Linked DNA regions of Homo sapiens: region 1 is linked to region 2. The links come from fine-mapping of genetic effects on gene expression. Tissue or cell type: whole blood. Region 2 holds a variant in brackets; the other region holds the start of a gene. All regions are shown on one strand. Distances are between the middles of the regions.

What was found. PIP is the estimated chance that this variant, and not a neighbour inherited with it, causes the effect.
Region 1: it holds the start of GMIP, and the variant in region 2 is fine-mapped to the expression of GMIP in whole blood (TOPMed, PIP above 0.99).

The regions. Positions count from the first base shown.
Region 1 is chr19:19,639,240-19,647,339 of GRCh38, forward strand. GMIP (GEM interacting protein) reads right to left here and starts at 4,418. Exons shown (of 21, transcript NM_016573.4): 1 at 4,272-4,418; 2 at 3,296-3,380; 3 at 2,737-2,812; 4 at 2,571-2,628; 5 at 1,207-1,332; 6 at 1,057-1,121; 7 at 846-953. The coding sequence starts at 4,290. ATP13A1 (ATPase 13A1) reads right to left here. Exons shown (of 26, transcript NM_020410.3): 22 at 7,890-8,086; 23 at 6,966-7,108; 24 at 6,635-6,746; 25 at 6,408-6,551; 26 at 5,959-6,293. The coding sequence ends at 6,183. RefSeq lists enhancers at 3,295-4,250, 3,472-3,631 and a silencer at 4,262-4,511.
Region 2 is chr19:19,551,640-19,559,739 of GRCh38, forward strand. No RefSeq gene overlaps it. Among named protein-coding and RNA genes, the nearest start is that of CILP2, 17 kb to the left of the region's middle. RefSeq lists an enhancer at 372-931. The variant A/C (reference allele first, on the strand shown) is at 3,195.

The sequences.
Region 1 (8,100 bases), 88 kb after region 2:
AAAACTTTTTTTTTTTTTTTGTAGAGACAGGGGGTCTCACTATGTTGCCCAGGTTGGTCTCAAACTCCTGGGCTCAAGCAATCCTCCCTCCTTGGCCCCCAGAAGTGCTGGGATTACAGGCATGAGCCACCGTGCCAGGCTGGACCCTTTTCTGAGTCAGTATTCTCCTCCTGGGGTCTTCTCCAGACCTGCTCTCCCCGACCCCTGAGTCCAGAAGTCTCATGTAGTCACCCCATCCTTTCTGCTTGGAAGCAGAGACACCAAGGCTTTCCTCCTGAGAACACTCAGCACCTCGTTCCCCTCCCCACAAACAAAAACGAAGTTTTTGGCTGGGCGTGGTGGCTCACGCCTGTAATCCCACCACTTTGGGAAGCTGAGGTAGGTGGATTACCTGAGGTCAGGAGTTGGAGACCAGCCTGGCCAACATGGTGAAACCCCATCTGTACTAAAAATACAAAAATTAGCCGGGCGTGGTGGCAGGCGCCTGTAATCCCAGCTACTCAGGAGGCTGAGGCAAGTGAATTGCTTGAACCCAAGAAGCGGAGGTTGCAGTGAGCTGAGATCGCACCATTGCACCCCAGCCTGGGCAAAAGAGCAAGATATTCTGTCTCAAGAAAAAAAGTAAAGTGAAGTTTTGCAATTGCACAGGAAGCCCAGCTTGAATCTTTGCTGGGTAACCTTGGGCAAGTTCCCAAGCATCCCCGGGCCTCAGCTTCCTCATCAATGAAATGGCGACGTTGGTAGTGGTGCCTTCCTCCCAGCTTGCTGGGAAACGAGGGGATCAGGCCTGAAGGACAGCAGGATAGCAGGGTGACCTCTGTAACATTCCACCCTGCCCCCCTCACCTGGTAGTAGTCTCTTTTCTGCTGGGCCACTGTCTCCATGGCCAGGGTTCCCAGGCTGAGATCGTGCTCCAGAAACAGGGTGTAGATGTACTGCAGAGGCATGTGGCTCTGGGGAAGACAGAGTGGTGTAGGAGGATACTGAAGATCTGTGGGGGACAAAGGTGGGGTTCTAGGGGGCTTGGGCTCTCCGGGGGGGTCTGGTCATGACTACCTGCTGTTGAATGGACACCTTGCCAGCTTCAGCGATCTTCATGGTGCTCTTAGCAAACTCCAGCTCTGGGGGAAGAGAGAGCCGGGCTCTGGGTCTAGCTGGGGTCTGGGGACTGCCTGGTAACTGGGGCTGGGCGGAAGAGGTCCTCACCATAGCTGGCTCTCTTTTCAGTCCAGGCAAGCAGTTCCTTGGCATAGCGGCTCCAGGTCTTGGCATATTCCAGGGCTGCGTCCACACCCCCCTTTGTCCGAATGAGCCGCAAGTCCAGTTCCTCCCCTGGGGAAGATGGATGGACCTCTGACCTTTGCACCCTAGTCTGCTATGGATGTCTTCCCTAAGCCCCCAGACCAGCCCAGTGGCACCTGTCCTACAGCCTCACAGCTCCCCAAACACTACTTTGGGATCACTTGTCCTGGTTGCAATTTTACAGATTCACTGTTTTTTGTTTTTTATTTTTTATTATTTTATTATTTATTTATTTATTTTTGAGACTGTGTTTCGCTCTTGTTGCCCAGGCTAGAGTGCAATGGCGCGATTTTGGCTCACCAAAACCTCTGCCTCCCGGGTTCAAGCGATTCTCCTGCCTCAGCCTCCTGAGTAGCTGGGATTACAGGCATGCGCCACCATGCCCGGCTAATTTTTTGTATTTTTAGTAGAGACGAGGTTTCTCTATGTTGGTCAGGCTGGTCTCGAACTCCCAATCTCAGGTGATCTGCCCGCCTCGGCCTCCCAAAGTGCTGGGATTACAGGCATGAGCCACCGTGCCCGGCCTGTGTTTGATGGGTTTTTTTATTTTTATTTTTGAGGCGGAGTCTCGCTCTGTCGCTCAGGCTGGAGTGCAATGGCCCTATTTTGCCTCACTGCAAGCTCCGCCTCCTGGGTTCCCGCCATTCTCCTGCCTCAGCCTCCCGAGTATCTGGGACTACAGGCACTCGCCACTGCGCCCGGCTAAATTTTTTTGTATTTTTAGTAGAGATGGGGTTTCACCATGTTAGCCAGGATGGTCTCGATCTCCTGACCTCGTGGTCCACCCGCCTCAGCCTCCAAAGTGCTGGGATTACAGGCGTGAGCCACTGCGTCCGGCCTTGTGTTTGATTTTTTTGGACATGGTCTTGCTCTGTCATCCAGGCTGGAGTGCAGTGGCACAATCGTATCTCACTGCAGCCTCAAAGTCCTGGGCTTAATCAGTCCTCCAGCCTCAGCTTCCAAAGTAGCTGGGACTACAGGCACACACCACCACACCCAGCTAATTAAAAAAATATTTTTTCTTTTGGTAGGGATGGTGTCTTACTGTTGCCCAGCATGGTCACGAATTCCTGGCTTCAAGTGATCCTCCTACCTCAGCCTCCACCCTGCCTGGGGTCTCCCTGAGGGCTGGGACTGAGATCTGTTGTGTGTACTGCCATATTCCCAAAACCTAAACGATGCCTTGCATGGAACAGGGGATCAGTGGTGATTTGTTGAAGGAAAGACTCCTGTCTGTCCCCACTGTCCTGGCCTCCAGACCCCCCTACCTGTGAGGGGTACAGGACCCTCTGGGGAGGGGCCGCTCCAACAGCTGGCTTCGTTGGTCTGTGCGGGAGGGAGACAGTATTCAGAAGCAAACAGGGCAGGGGCCTGGCCTTCCTAAGGCCCCCTCTGCTTGAGGTCTTCCTCCCTGTTCCCCTACTCCCCACTCACAACAGTGGCTGTAGGGGTCTTGTCAGGTTCTGGGTCTTCTGAGAGTAGAGGGTCTCCAGCCAGCATCTCAAGGGTCCTGGGGGATAAAGGTGTGTCAGGATGCCACCTTACACCCAGTCTGTCCTGCCAAGGGGTGCTGGGGACCTTAGGGTTGTTTGTGGCAAACATCACCTCTGTGGCATCTCTTGTGTCTGGGAGGTCTGAAGAATGGTGTTTTGGGGGAATCAGGTGAGTTTTTTTTAAATAGGACTTGAAAAAGCATCTGAAGGGCCCCAGATAACTTTGAGGTTCATAGAGTGGGATTATAGGGATCGCAAATATTTTAAGGGGTTACAAGGATATGTAGGGGTTCTAGGACCACTTTGGGGATTTCCAGTCTATTTAGGGGGACACTTTTAGGATACCGAGGCATTTTGGAGGGTCCCATCCTAGACTTCTCTGGTTATTAGGTATGTAGGTCCAGATGTTACAGGTTCCAAATGGGACTGCAAGGCACCTAAATGGTTAGGGGCTTGGGGCATCTTGGCAGGATTTGGGGGTGATCCAGGCTCAGACTCACACGTTCCCCAGTGAGATTTCGAGGTTGTCCAGGCTCCGGAAGATGTCACTGTACCTCTTCCTGCCCTCAGGACCTGGGGGGAGTCCTAGGGGAGGGGAGTGTAATACATGGGCTAACCACTGCCTCCCTCCACCCACGGCACCTCAACCAGTCTCATTTGGAGGGGGTGGAAGAGAAAGGGAAGAGTGAGAGAGAGAAAGAGAGGGCTGGGGGGGGCTTGGTTGGGGCCAACTCGAGGCAGGCAGATGGACTCACACACCACCAGAGACCAGAGACAGCTGCTCGGGGAACAGAGACACCCACTCCCTGGGTCTGCCTGCACCCAGAAGCAAACCAACAAAACAGATGCCCCAGATGCAACCAGGCTGTCCCGAGAAGAAAGCCGGTCTGACAATGGAACCACGGGCTAGACAGATGGAAATACACAAGGGACAGCCAGGCAGAGCCTGGGGCAGAAACACACATGGAGAGACTGAAGCCGTGAGGGACATAAAGACCGAATGACACTCCACATACACAACACAGACACAAAGACGGCCGGAAACACCAAGTCGGACCCCGCCACATTTCTACTGCTGCCCCCCTGCCCCCTCTCCTAAGGGGCCTAGACCAGCACTGCCGACTCCCCAGGGCTACAGAGGGGCCCTGTGGGGATCCTACCGCGTTGCCCTCTCCCTCAGCAGTCGTGGCACCCTGCCCCCATCACAAAAATCAGAAGCAGAAGCAGTCACTTCCCCTTCCTGGGCCCCCTCCCCCAGGCGTCTGGGGTGAGGGATCAAAAGGGGGAGGGGGAGTGAAGGGCTGGGGTCCTGAACCCATCCGGGCACAGGGCTCCCCACAATGGAGGATCCCTGGGTCCTTCCCATTCAGGAACTCCTCTCCTGGCTCTCAGGACGGAGCGGGACAAGTGTGTGCCCTCAATGTAGGAAGCAGGGGATGGTCGGGGGAGGCCCCTCCCGGATCCCCGACCCCCTACCCGGCTCTGCTGCGTCCATATCTGGGCCCGGGGATCGCTCTGCAGGGACCGGGATGGGGATGGGGTCGCGCGCCGGCGGGGCCGAGCCCCGATTTCCTGCCGCCGCAGCCGCCGCCGCCGCCTCGGTTCCGCGTCGCCCTGCCCAGCGGAGGCCACGCCCCCGCATCAGACCACGCCCCCGTAGCCCGGAAGCCTTGATAGTGCCCTTCTCTACCTGAGCCGCTTGAAACTGGGTCGGGCCAGGGCCCCCTGAGCGACCACTCGAGGCTGCAGTGCCCCTGACCTGGGCATCCTAAGACTTCATCTGGGCCATAGGTTCCCTCTCAGATCTTTGTGCTACCCCAAATCCCACGGAGCCCCAGCCCCCTCCTCCCTGAATGGTTGCAGAGTCCACCTGTCCCGGGGGGCCTCTCCCAGGAGCTCCCACAACCCGCGACCCTGGTGATCCCCTTGCCCAGGTTGTCTCTCGGAGCCCTGAAACCACCTGGGCCTCGCTGGAGCCATGGCGCCCCCTGGTGGAGGCCTGATATTCTGTCCGATTCCAACCAAAATTCTAATACTCGGGCTGGAGAACCCCTGGCCTGGGGGACGCCCCTTCCGTGACCCTCAAAGCTGGATCAGGCTCAAGGCCCCAATTACAGCACACCAGGGAGCAGCCCTTTTAGGTAGGGAGTGGAGGTTTGTCCAAAAGCACCAGCTCTGGGGTTGCCACAAGCCGCCTGTTATAAAAATGCTCCCACCCCCAGCACAGTGGAATTTTGGGGCTGGAAATAGACTTTAAAGTATGTTTATAACTTTGTGTCCAAAGGCTTTGGCTGTTAAGGAGGCAAGGATTCTCTGACTGGCTCCGTGCTGCCTACTCTGCAGTTCTTGAGTTGTGATGAGTGAGTCCATTGAAAGGAATAACACTATCAACCTAAGAGCCAAGCCAGGTTTCCAGGTCACATCCTGGCTGATGCTCAGCCAGAGCTCCCTGACTGTGACATGAGATGGTAGAGCAGCGCAGGCCCCCAAAGAGCATGACAGAGTCAGTACTTGTTTGTTTTTCTTTTGAGTTGGAGTCTCGCTCTGTTGCCCAGGCTGGAGTGCAGTGGCGTTATCTCGGCTCACTGCAAGCTCCACCTCCTGGGTTCACGCCATTCTCCTGCCTCAGCCTCCCGAGTAACTGGGACTACAGGCACTCGCCACCATGCCTGGCTAATTTTTTGTATTTTTAGTAGAGATGGGGTTTCACTGTGTTAGCCAGGATGGTCTCGATCTCCTGACCTTGTGATGGGCCCGCCTTGGCCTCCCAAAGTGCTGGGATTACAGGCTTGAGCCACCGGACAGAGTCAATACTTGTAATGATGCAGATCATATTCCTCAAGTCTCAGACACCACCCGAGAGAAAGGCATGCTGTTATGTATTATGGGAAAGAAAAAAATATCACACATCCTAAGGCTTCTCTCAGCACCTGAGTTGTTAAAATGTGAAAGAGACCTCAGAAATATGGGGGTGCTTGTTAAACTAGAAAATATGCACTGAATTCTCTGGGCAGGGACAAGTCCATGTTCAAGTGCTGAAAGTGCCAGAGGGTTTCACCAACATCACACGCCTGTGGGGAGGGTGCTGGGACCTTCCTCAGTGACCCTCTGTCCCCGAGCCCCCAGCAAACACCGTGTGGCACAGACGAGGTGGAGGCAGGGCTTTTTAAAATCTCAGATGCTGCTTTATTTACCAAAGGTGCTGGCTTGGGGCTGGTTCTGCTGGCCAAGCCAGCGGATGGCTGTGGGGGTCCCAGCTCAGTCTTCCAAGGGCGAGACTGTACAGCCTTGCTGTGGGGGGTTGGGGGCAGGGTTCCCTCCCGGGGCCCTGTTGGGGTTCCCGCCCAGCGGCAGCCAGGGTGGGCAGTGGGTACCAGCACTGCCATCTCAGGAAGGCACTTTCAGCTTCGGGGTCCCCAGGAAGAACTGCAGGACGCGGTCGGCCAGGAGCGCCAGGCAGAAGTCCAGGAGCAGGACCTGGGCAATGACCAGCTTGAACTGTCGGGGCAGGGAGGGATGGTGAGCTGGAGACCTGCAGCCCAGCTCAGGGTCACTGCCATAGGAGGGACCCATCAAGCTGAGCCCCAGGGTCACCTCCACAGGGCCACTGACCTCCACAGGGATGTCCACGAGGCCAAACTGGCTGTTGAAGTCGGGCGAGGAGCCGAGGAGCAGGCCAATGATGGCCAGGAGTGAAACTGCCAGACTCCACACCAGGGGCTTGTTCTCGGGCAGGCTCTCCATGAAGGGCGGGCCCTGTGGGGATGAGGGACAGATGGCTTCATGGGGTGGGGCTGGGTGGGCAGACAGTGAATGTTTGGGCAGGGCCCAGGCCTTACTTTGTAATTGATGGCGAAGGTGGCCATCTGCATGGCCATGGCCATGATGTAGACGGTGCTGTTGACCAGGCTTGGCTCAAACTCCTTGTACAAGTCCACGAACTGCTCCTGCCTGCAAGGACACATGGGAGTCAGGGCCCCCTCTCCTGCTCCGGCTCACACACACTGTGTGGCTTCCTGCTGCCCTGGCACAGAGCTAGGGCTCTGCCTGGCCTAGTGCCCCTCCCTGGACACCCTGGACAACCCCCAGCCTCTCCTGCTGAAGTCTGTGGAGTCATCCTCCTGCTATTCTCAGCTGCAGGGACATCACCTCCTCCAAGGCAGCACTTACTTCTCGGGGCTCCGGGCCTGGGCCTCACGGTACAGGTAGACAAGGCTCAGGAAGTGCACAAAGAACTGGAGCATGACGGTGAGGATGGTGTACAGGTTGAAGATGTTGGGCAGGGGCCGTTCTCGGGAGAGGGTCTTGAGGGGCTGCAGCAGCAAGGCGGGTGGGGGAGTCAGGATCTGGCTCACTTGGGGCCACCCTGCCCACACAGCAGGCAGTAACATCCCCTGCCTCCCGGGAGACCTTGTGTACAGCCACCACCAAATCCTGGGGGATTCCATGGGTCAGCACCAGTCCCTGGATCCCTGCCTGCCTCTCACCCCTGAGCCCAGGGCTGCCTCCCTGGCCCCGGCTCCGCCATCCAGGCTCCCCATGGCAGCCACAGGGGCCTGAGAATCATGAAGCAGATCCTGCCCTCCCTGGAGCCCACGGGACAGGCACAGTCCCGCCCAGCCAATCTCCCACCCCCTCCAGCCACCGGGGACTCCCTGCGTCAGCCCATGCCTGTTTGGGGCCTTTGTGTCCAGTTCCTGGCCGCTGGCCCCCCTGGTTCTTTACGCCTTGGCCTGAGTGTCGGTGTCGCACAGGCCTCCCCAGCTGTCCACCAGCCTGTCCTGTGTAGCCTATGACCCACTTAGTTGTTTTTTTACCCTCTTGATGATTGTTCCTTGCTTGTGGGGCTCTGTGGGGCCCACCCCTGGGACCCCTACCTGTGGACAGGTGTGGACGCCAAGCTGTACCACCTGGAGGGGTCTGGGAGCCTCAGTCCACACCTGCCCTGCCAGCATTTCCTGAGCCATCCCAGCTACAGCCCCCATCTCTGGGGCCCTGGGTCCTGTAACTTGGGGATGACAATTCCCGTGCCTATATCAGCCTGGCCCTGGCAGGCCCATGCATCCCTGGCCTTCCAGCACCTCTGGGGCCCACCTTGGAACGGGAGATGAAGAGGAAGCAGCCGGCCAGCAGCAGCCCCTGTAGGGTGGCCTGGAAGTCACTGAACTTGACTCCCTCCAGGTAGAGGACGCTCTGGCTGTAGGCCAGGATGAGGGCATTGAGCGCCAGGATCTTGAACATCTGTAGCGTGGTCACCAGCGTGCAGCGGCCCTGCTTGATCACGTGGCAGACTGCAGGGTGGTGG
Region 2 (8,100 bases):
TCTGCGTTGGCAAAAGTTGCATCTTTGCACCTGGAATCCTGGCCAGGCCGGGAGGCCCCTCCTCCCGGGACATACAAGATCCCCCTGGGACTTCTCAGCGAGATCATCCCCTGTCCTTTGTTATCTGGCTGCTGAGTGGCTTTCACGGGGCAGGGGCTTCTAGGCAGAGGGATGTTGGAGTGAGGGCCTGGGGGTGCTTCGCCAGGACTTCTGGGAGGCCTGGGTCCCCAGCCTCGGCCCCGCTTGCCATCTGGCCCAGCTGAACACAAACACTTGGACATGGCCGACCCAACGGAATCTGGGTTGTGGTCAGGCCGTGGCTGAAAAAGCCACTGGAAAAACACGCAGCCCACGGGGCCAGGCCCAGCTTACGTTTCACCAGGGAGGAGTGGCCTGCTCGGCGCCCAGAGCCGAGGAATGTCCGTTCTCTAACCCTTTGGAACTTGTTGTCTGACTGGGGAATCCAGCAGCTGGGCGGTGCCATCCTTAGTGCCCTCTGGTCAGGCTGTGACTTACCTCCTGCTGTGTTCTTGGAGACTCAGGCCTCTTGGCGTGGCCCCCTGGCCCAGCCCCTGGCCAGCCACTGCTGAAGACCCCTTGTCAGCTTGCACACCCCTGAAGACAGAGGGCTCACTCCCTTCCAGCTGTCATGCCAGGCAGCCGGAAGCCTGTTAACTAGGCTGATTTTTTTTTTTTGAGACAGATTCTTGCTTTGTCGCCCAGGCTGGAGTGCAGTGGCACGATCTCGGCTCACTGCAAGCTCCGAACTAGGCTGATTTTTTATGGGAAATTCGGGCTTCCTTGGCCACACAGATGGGAGGTCAGTGCAGCCTGGGCACTCCCTCCTTTCCCTGGGGTTCCACCTCCTTCTGGATCTCCGGATGTCCCCTCAGGCCCCTAGGATCAGCAGGTCCCAGTGGACCCCAGTATCTCACTGCGAAACGTGTTCCTCACCCTGCAGCCATGTCTCAGGGTTATCCATCTGTCTGTCTGCCCTGCGCCGCGGGCAGGGCTGGTGGCCCACACATCCACTGAGTGCCCACTGGATGCGGAAGCACCTCACTTGCATCTCCTCACTGACCTCTCCCGGGGAGGCTGGTCCCATTAGTGCTCCACTTTGCGGGGGAGGGCCGGGGGGGCGGTGTGGGGAAACAGAAGCTCAGGGGGTTTCTTTTACGTCCTGAAGATGTGGTGGCAGATTCTGGAAGTAGGAGCCAGTTCCCCACTGGCTCCAGGACAAGGGCCTGGGAAACCTCGTTTGTCAGGCCGGGACAACGCCTGGTGGCCAAAGGGGGAGCTGCAGCCTGGGCCATGGGGGTGCCTGCTGCAGTGTCCCTAGCTTAAGGCTGGCTTGGGTTACTTCTCTGCTCAAACACCCTCCATGGCTCCCGTAGTCTCCTCAGCGGGCACAGGGGTGCTAGATGAGCCCCTCCTGGGTCATTACAGAGACTCCTGACTGCAAAATCTTGCCTCTTGGGTCAGACCTAAGCCCTGTCCTCACTCAACCTCACAGCCTGTTTCCCCAGCTGGGGAATAAACCAACAATGGCCTTTGCCTCTTCAGGAACTGGTGACTGCAAGGCTGGCATGGGTTAGGCGCTCTGTAATTGCAATTGTCACCCTCAGTAACGCACAGGAGAGGGGCAGGGACTTGAGCTGGGGTGTCCCAGGCAGCCTCAACCACCCTCCCTCAGCAATCGCTACCCGCCCCCCCGCCCAGGACAAGGCATCTGAATCAGGGCCTCAATTTCCTCCCCAGAGTGTGGGGGCCTCCAAACTTTATCGAGGGTCCTAGTGTGTTAGGTCTTGAAATGCCCCCTGGAGTCGTAGGGGAACAGAAATGTTCACTAGGGAGTGGGTATAGGGCCTTGCCAAGCACTGATGAAGGGGCCCTAGAAACTTCCATCTTTTTTTTTTTGAGACAGAGTCTGGCTCTGTCACCCAGGCTGGAGTGCAGTGGTGCAATCTCGGCTCACTGCAACCTCCACCTCCCGGGTTCAAGTTATTCTCCTGCCTCAGCCTCTCGAGTAGCTGGGATTACAGGTGGGCACCACCATGCCCAGCTATTTTTTGTATTTTAGTAGGGCTTCACCATGATGCCAGGCTGGTCACGAACTCCCGACCTCAATTGATCTGCCCGCCTTGGCCTCCCAAACTGCTAGGATTACAGATGTGAGCCACCACACCCTGCCAAAACTTTCATCTTAAAACTATGAGGGAGACCTTGAAACTCTATGTGGGGGAAATTGAAACTGCATATGGGGGTCTTGAAGGTGCCACTGCACACCTTGCTTGGCCTGAGCAAACCTGCAGGTTACTTCCACCCGTGACCCACGTGGGGAGACTGACGCCAGAGACCTCCTCCCCACACACCACGCCTCTCCTCATCCCTCAACACTCTCCGGGACCCGCTTCCGTCCAAAAAACCCCCATGGGCCAGGCAGGCGTAAGGTTGCGGCCCAGGGAGGGGCAGCCCGTTCCCTAGGGCCACACGGCCCAGCCCCTTACCCCGTTACTTGGGGCAGGGGTCGATTCCGAGCCAAGGGTTGGGGCGACTGACCTAGAGTGACTGGAGCTAGGCCCGCGGCTGCCTGAGTTGCCCCATCTCTATCCCAGGAGAGGGAACCAGTGCCAGGAGGAAGACCAGGCGCCCGCCCCTGCGGACGCTCCTAGCCCCTTAGCTAAGGTCTCAGGACACCGGCTGGCGGTGAGGACGGGGCAGCTCAGGGGAAAAGAAAGCCAGGGAGGGCCGGGGGCTCCGAGGGGTTTTAGGGAGGGGTACAGCAGTTAGCCAGGCGGAGGGAATGCCAGTGCAAAGGCCCTCCCTGCGGTGGGAATGAGCTTACTCAGGGGCAGTGAGGGGTCAGCGAAGAGGGAGATGCCCGGATCCTCTTCTATTGTAAGATCGCCCCCTGGCGGCCCAGTAGAGAAGGGGCAGGGAGATGGGGCCGGTCCAACCTCCCGTCTACCCTCCAGCTCTCCCAGCCTGGCAGATGAGTGGCCCCCTTCTCCCAGCCTGGGTGTCCCCAAAGGCAAGAAGGAAAAACAGAATCCCAGACCTTGCGAGAGCACCCCTGCATGGACACAGCCGTCAGCACCTTTCTGTGCTCATGGGATTGCCACCAAGCCCTTCGAGCAGGAGCACATGTGCCCATTTTATAGAGGGGCAAATGGGCTCAGGGAGAGAGGGGAGCA[A/C]GCAGGGTGCAGAGGCAGGACTCAAACCCAAGACTCCGGCCCTGTCTGGGGCTCTGGCAGGTTGGGCTGGACCAGGTTGAGGGTGTCTGTTGGGAGCTGGAGGAGCCACTATGGGCCTGTGAGGGTCCCAGGTAGGTGGTCAAGGTGGGAGGCTGGGGAATCCAGAACGCGGGCGCAGGGGACAGTACACATCACCAGGGTTCCCTCTCTGTGCCTTGGTTTCCCTAGCACTTCGTTGAGGAAGGTGAGAACATCACTGGCTCCCTCCTCAAATGGTCCCCCACTCGTTTTGGGATCTGCTGGGGATTCTTGCTTCAATCCATGTGCCCACGGGCCACTGGGAGTCCCTACAACGCTGCCAGTGGCCCCATTTAACATGCAGGTCCCAGGTCAGGCATGGTGGCTCACACCTGTAATCCTAGCGCTTTGAGAGGCCAAGGCGGGCTTATCACCTGAGGTCAGGAGTTCAAGACCAGCCTGGCCAACATGGCAAAACCCCATCTCTACAAAAATACAAAAGTTAGCCAGGCATGAGGGCGGGCGCCTTAATCCCAGCTACTTGGGAGGCTGAGGTAGGAGAATCGCTTGAACCCGGGAGGCAGAGGTTGCAGTGAGCTGAGATCGCGCCACTGCACTCTAGCCTGGGTGACAAAGCAAGACTCCGTCTCAAAAAATTAAATAAAATGCAGGTCCCCAGTTCCCTCAGCGGAGGCTCCTACAGATTTGGATGTGTCTAGAGATTGAAAGCATTATCCCTCACTTTCCAAATTCTTGCTGTTTCAAAATGAGGAAGGCTGAGAGCTGAAAGCCCACCATCCCGTCCCAGCTGGACCCACAATATGGGTGATGTGTGGTCCAAGGGCGGGCAGAGGCGGTTACCCCAGTCAGGATCACACACTCCAGGTATTTAGCTACCATTTGCAAAACACTCTTGCTAGAGGTAGTGGTGTGTGTCTATAGTTCCAGATACTCAGGAGGCTGAGACAGGAGGATCACTTGAGCCCTGGAGTTCGAGGCTGCAGTGAGCTATGTCACTGTACTCCAGCCTGGGTGACAGAGCAAGACCCTATGTCTAAATAAATAAGTAGGCCAGCATGGTGGCTCAGTCCTGTAATCCTACCACTTTGGGAGGCCGAGGCAGGCGGATCACTTGAGGTCAGGAGTTCAAGACCAGCCTGGCCAACATGACAAAACTCCATCTCTACTAAAAATACAATAATTAGCTGGGCCTGGTGGTGGGTGCCTGTAGTCCCAGCTACTCGGGAAGCTGAGGCAAGAGAACTGGTTGAACCTGGGAGGTGGAGGTTGCAGTGAGCTGAGATTCACGCCACTGCACTCCAGCCCGGGTGACAGAGCGAGACTCTGTCCCCCCTCCCCTCAAAAAAAAATTATTTATTTAATAATAAAAATAAATAGGCTGGGTGCGGTGGCTCATGCCTGTAATTCCAGCACTTTGGGAGGCTGAGGCGGGAAGGTCACCTGAGGTCAGGAGTTCGAGACCAGCCTGGCCAACATGGTGAAACCCTGTCTGTACTAAAAATACAAAAATTAGCCAGGCATGGTGGTACATGCCTGTAATCCCAGCTACTCGGGAGGTTGAAGCAGGAGAATCACTTGAACCTGGGAGGCAGAGGTTGCAGTGAGCTGAGATCGCACCACTGTACTTCAGCCTCGGCAACAGAACAAGATTCTGTCTCAAAATAAATTAATTAAAATAAAATAAAATAAAATAAAATATAAAATAAAATAAAAAGAAACACAAAAATTAGCCAGGAGTGGTGGCACATGGTTATAGTCCCAGCTACTCAGGAGGCTGAGGTGGAAGGATCGCTTGAGCCGAGGAGGTCAAGGCTGCAGTGAGCCATGATTGCACCAATGCACTCCAGCCCAGGTGACAGAGTGAGACCCTGTCTCAAAAAAAAAAAAAAAAAAAAAAAAAAAAAAAAAAAAAAAAGCTGGGTGTGGTGGCTCATGCCTGTAATCCCAGCACTTTGGGAGGCTGAGGCAGGTGGATCACTTAAGGTCAGGAGTTCAAGACCAGCCTGGCCAACATGGTAAAACCTTGTCTCTACAAAAATACAAAAATCAGCCGGACATGGTGGCAGGTGTCTGTAATCCCAGCTACTCGAGAGGCTGGAGCGGGAGAATTGCTTGAACCTGGGAGGCAGAGGTTGCAGTGAGCCAAGATCACGCCATTGCACTCCAGCCTGGGCACCAGAGTAAGACTCTGTCCCCATTCCCCTCAAAAAAAAAAAAAAAAAAAAAATCAGGAGGGGAATTGATGAGACTAAAGGGTACATGCATTCTTATTTTTTATAGAGATGGGTTATCACTCTGTCTCCCAGGCTGGAGTTCAGTGACATGATCACGGCTCACTGCAGCCTTGAACTCCTGGGCTCAAGTGATCCTCCCGCCTCAGCCTCCTGAGTAGCTATGGTGTCCATCACATCTGGCTAATTTTAAAAAATGTTTATGAGACAGCGGTGTCACTATGTTGTCCAGGCTGGTCTTGAACTCCTGGCATCAAGCGATTTTCCCACCTTGGCCTCCCAAAGTGCTGGGATTACAGGCCTGAACCACCATGCCCAGCCTCAACGTGTCCACTTTTAATATGAATAGATTCTAGAAAATTGCCCTCCTGGGCGGCTGTACCAGACTGTACCCACCACCACTGCCTTCAGGCTGGGAGCCCCCCGCCCTGCTGCTTCCTCCTATCTAGGGGCTCGGGGTGCAGGTCACAAAGCCTCTGAGCCTCATTGTCCCCACCTGTTATGTGGAGACGCCTATCAGCACCCACACAGCTAGCAGGCAGTTCAAGTCCCTGGTGACTCCTGTGTCCCTGTAATCACCTTTATGGCTTGGTTACTATCATGCAGCCAACTTTTAGGCACATTTGAATAGTGCAATATAAAATATTAATAAAGTGTGACTTTGTGTGCAGAATTTGACCTGGGTTGGGGGGGTGGGGCGGGTGCAGCAGCTCACACCTGTAATCTCAGCAATTTAGGAAGCCGAGGCGGGCGGATCACTTGAGCCCAGGAGGTTGAGACCAGCCTGGCCAACATGGCAAAGTCCTGTCTCTAATAAAAATACAAAAATTAGCTGGGCATGGTGGCGCATGCCTGTAGTCCCAGCTACTTGGGAGGTTGAGGCAGGAGAATGGCTTGAACCCAGGAGGCAGAGGTTGCAGTGAGCCAGGATCATGCCCCTGCACTCCAGCCTGGGCAACAGAGGGAGACTCTGTGACACACACACACACACACACACACACACGCGCACAACGAATTTGACCGGGGTGGGGATTTCTTTTATCGAAACCCCCCAAGAGGCCTAGCTCTGAATCTCTGAACCGTGATCTGCATTCACGCTACAGGCAGAGGAGGGCGGGCGGGAGCTGGAGGCGTAGCTGCCCACAGGCTCAGCTCCAGCCTCTGGCAGGCACATCCAGTCACCGCTTTGTCCTCAGCACCCAGAGGAGCTGCCCGGCAGGTCCTGCCCTCTCCCTCCCTCAAGGACCTGCCCAGCAGCTCTCCCGGGCTCACAGCCTTAGTTTCCCTCCCACACCGCATGTCCCCCAGTGACCTCTTTGCTCTGAATCCCCCCAAGGGCTGACGAGGCTAGAGCCTCCGATTTTCTAGTAGTTGTGGCCCCATCACTCCACTGAAGCTGTCACACCCGATGCTGGACTTGGAGGTGGCTTCTTGATCCTGGTGGAGCTTCACTTCTGCTCCTGGTGTCTGTCCTTCTTTCTGCTTCTATGACATCCTCTCCTAGTTTCTGTCCCATATTTTGGCCTCCGTTGACTTCCAAATTGCTCTCTGCAGAGCAGGCCTCTCCCATGAGTGCGACTCCCATGTGCAGCTGGGGGACGGACACCCTGGGCCTGACAGCGTGGAGCTGAACCGGTCTCCCCCTCAAAACCATCCCCGTCTATTCCACCGGAGACTTCGGGCACCGTGACTCCTCTTCATCAGCAAGTACTGTGGCGCCACCTTCGCCTCCATCACGAACTCAGCGACACTTGACCATCCACCACCTAGGTCCCAGGACCCTCCTATGCCCCTCACTGCTGTCTGTCCTGGATGCAGCATTGGAGTGGCTGTGAAGATGCTGAGTCTAATGGGCACCCCCGAGGGCTGGCACCTCCTGCCCCTCCTCTGTGTGTGTGGACACCTCGAGGTAGGGTCAGTGCTCTCCGTACGCTCATGCTCACCTCCTGTAGGCCTTGTCTCAGAAGGCACCTTCCCCAGTTGGGATGGGACTGAGCCACAAAGCAGAAGGCGCACTGGCCCGTGCTCCAACGTGGATGAACCTCAAAGACACGATGCTGAGTGAAGGAAGCCAGACATGAAGGCCACACAGTGCACAAGCCCACTGATCTGAAATTTCCAGACCAGGCACATCTGAGACAGGAAGCAGACTGGTGGCCGCCAGAGGCTGGGGAAAGGGAATGAGGAGTGACTGCTCATGGGGACAAGGCTTTTTTTGGGAGATGAGAAAGTTTTGGAAATAGAAGTGATGATGTTGTGAATATATTCACTTCATTGAGTTGTGCACTCAAAAATGGCATACTTGGCAGGGCACAAGGCTGAAGTGGGGAGATCACTTGAGATCAAGAGTTCAAGACCAGCCTGGCCAACATGGCAAAACCTCATCTCTACTAAAAATACAAAAATTAGCCAGGCGTGGTGCATGCCTATAATCCCAACTATTCAGGAAGCTGAGGCACAAGAATTGCTTGAACCCAGGAAGTGGAGGCTGCACTGAGCCGAGATCGTGCCACTGCACTCCAGCCTGGGCGACAGAGCGAGACGGAGTGCAGTGGCACGATCTCAACTCACTGCAAGCTCTGCCTTCTGGGTTCACGCGATTCTCCTGCCTCAGCCTCCCCAGTAGCTGGGACTAC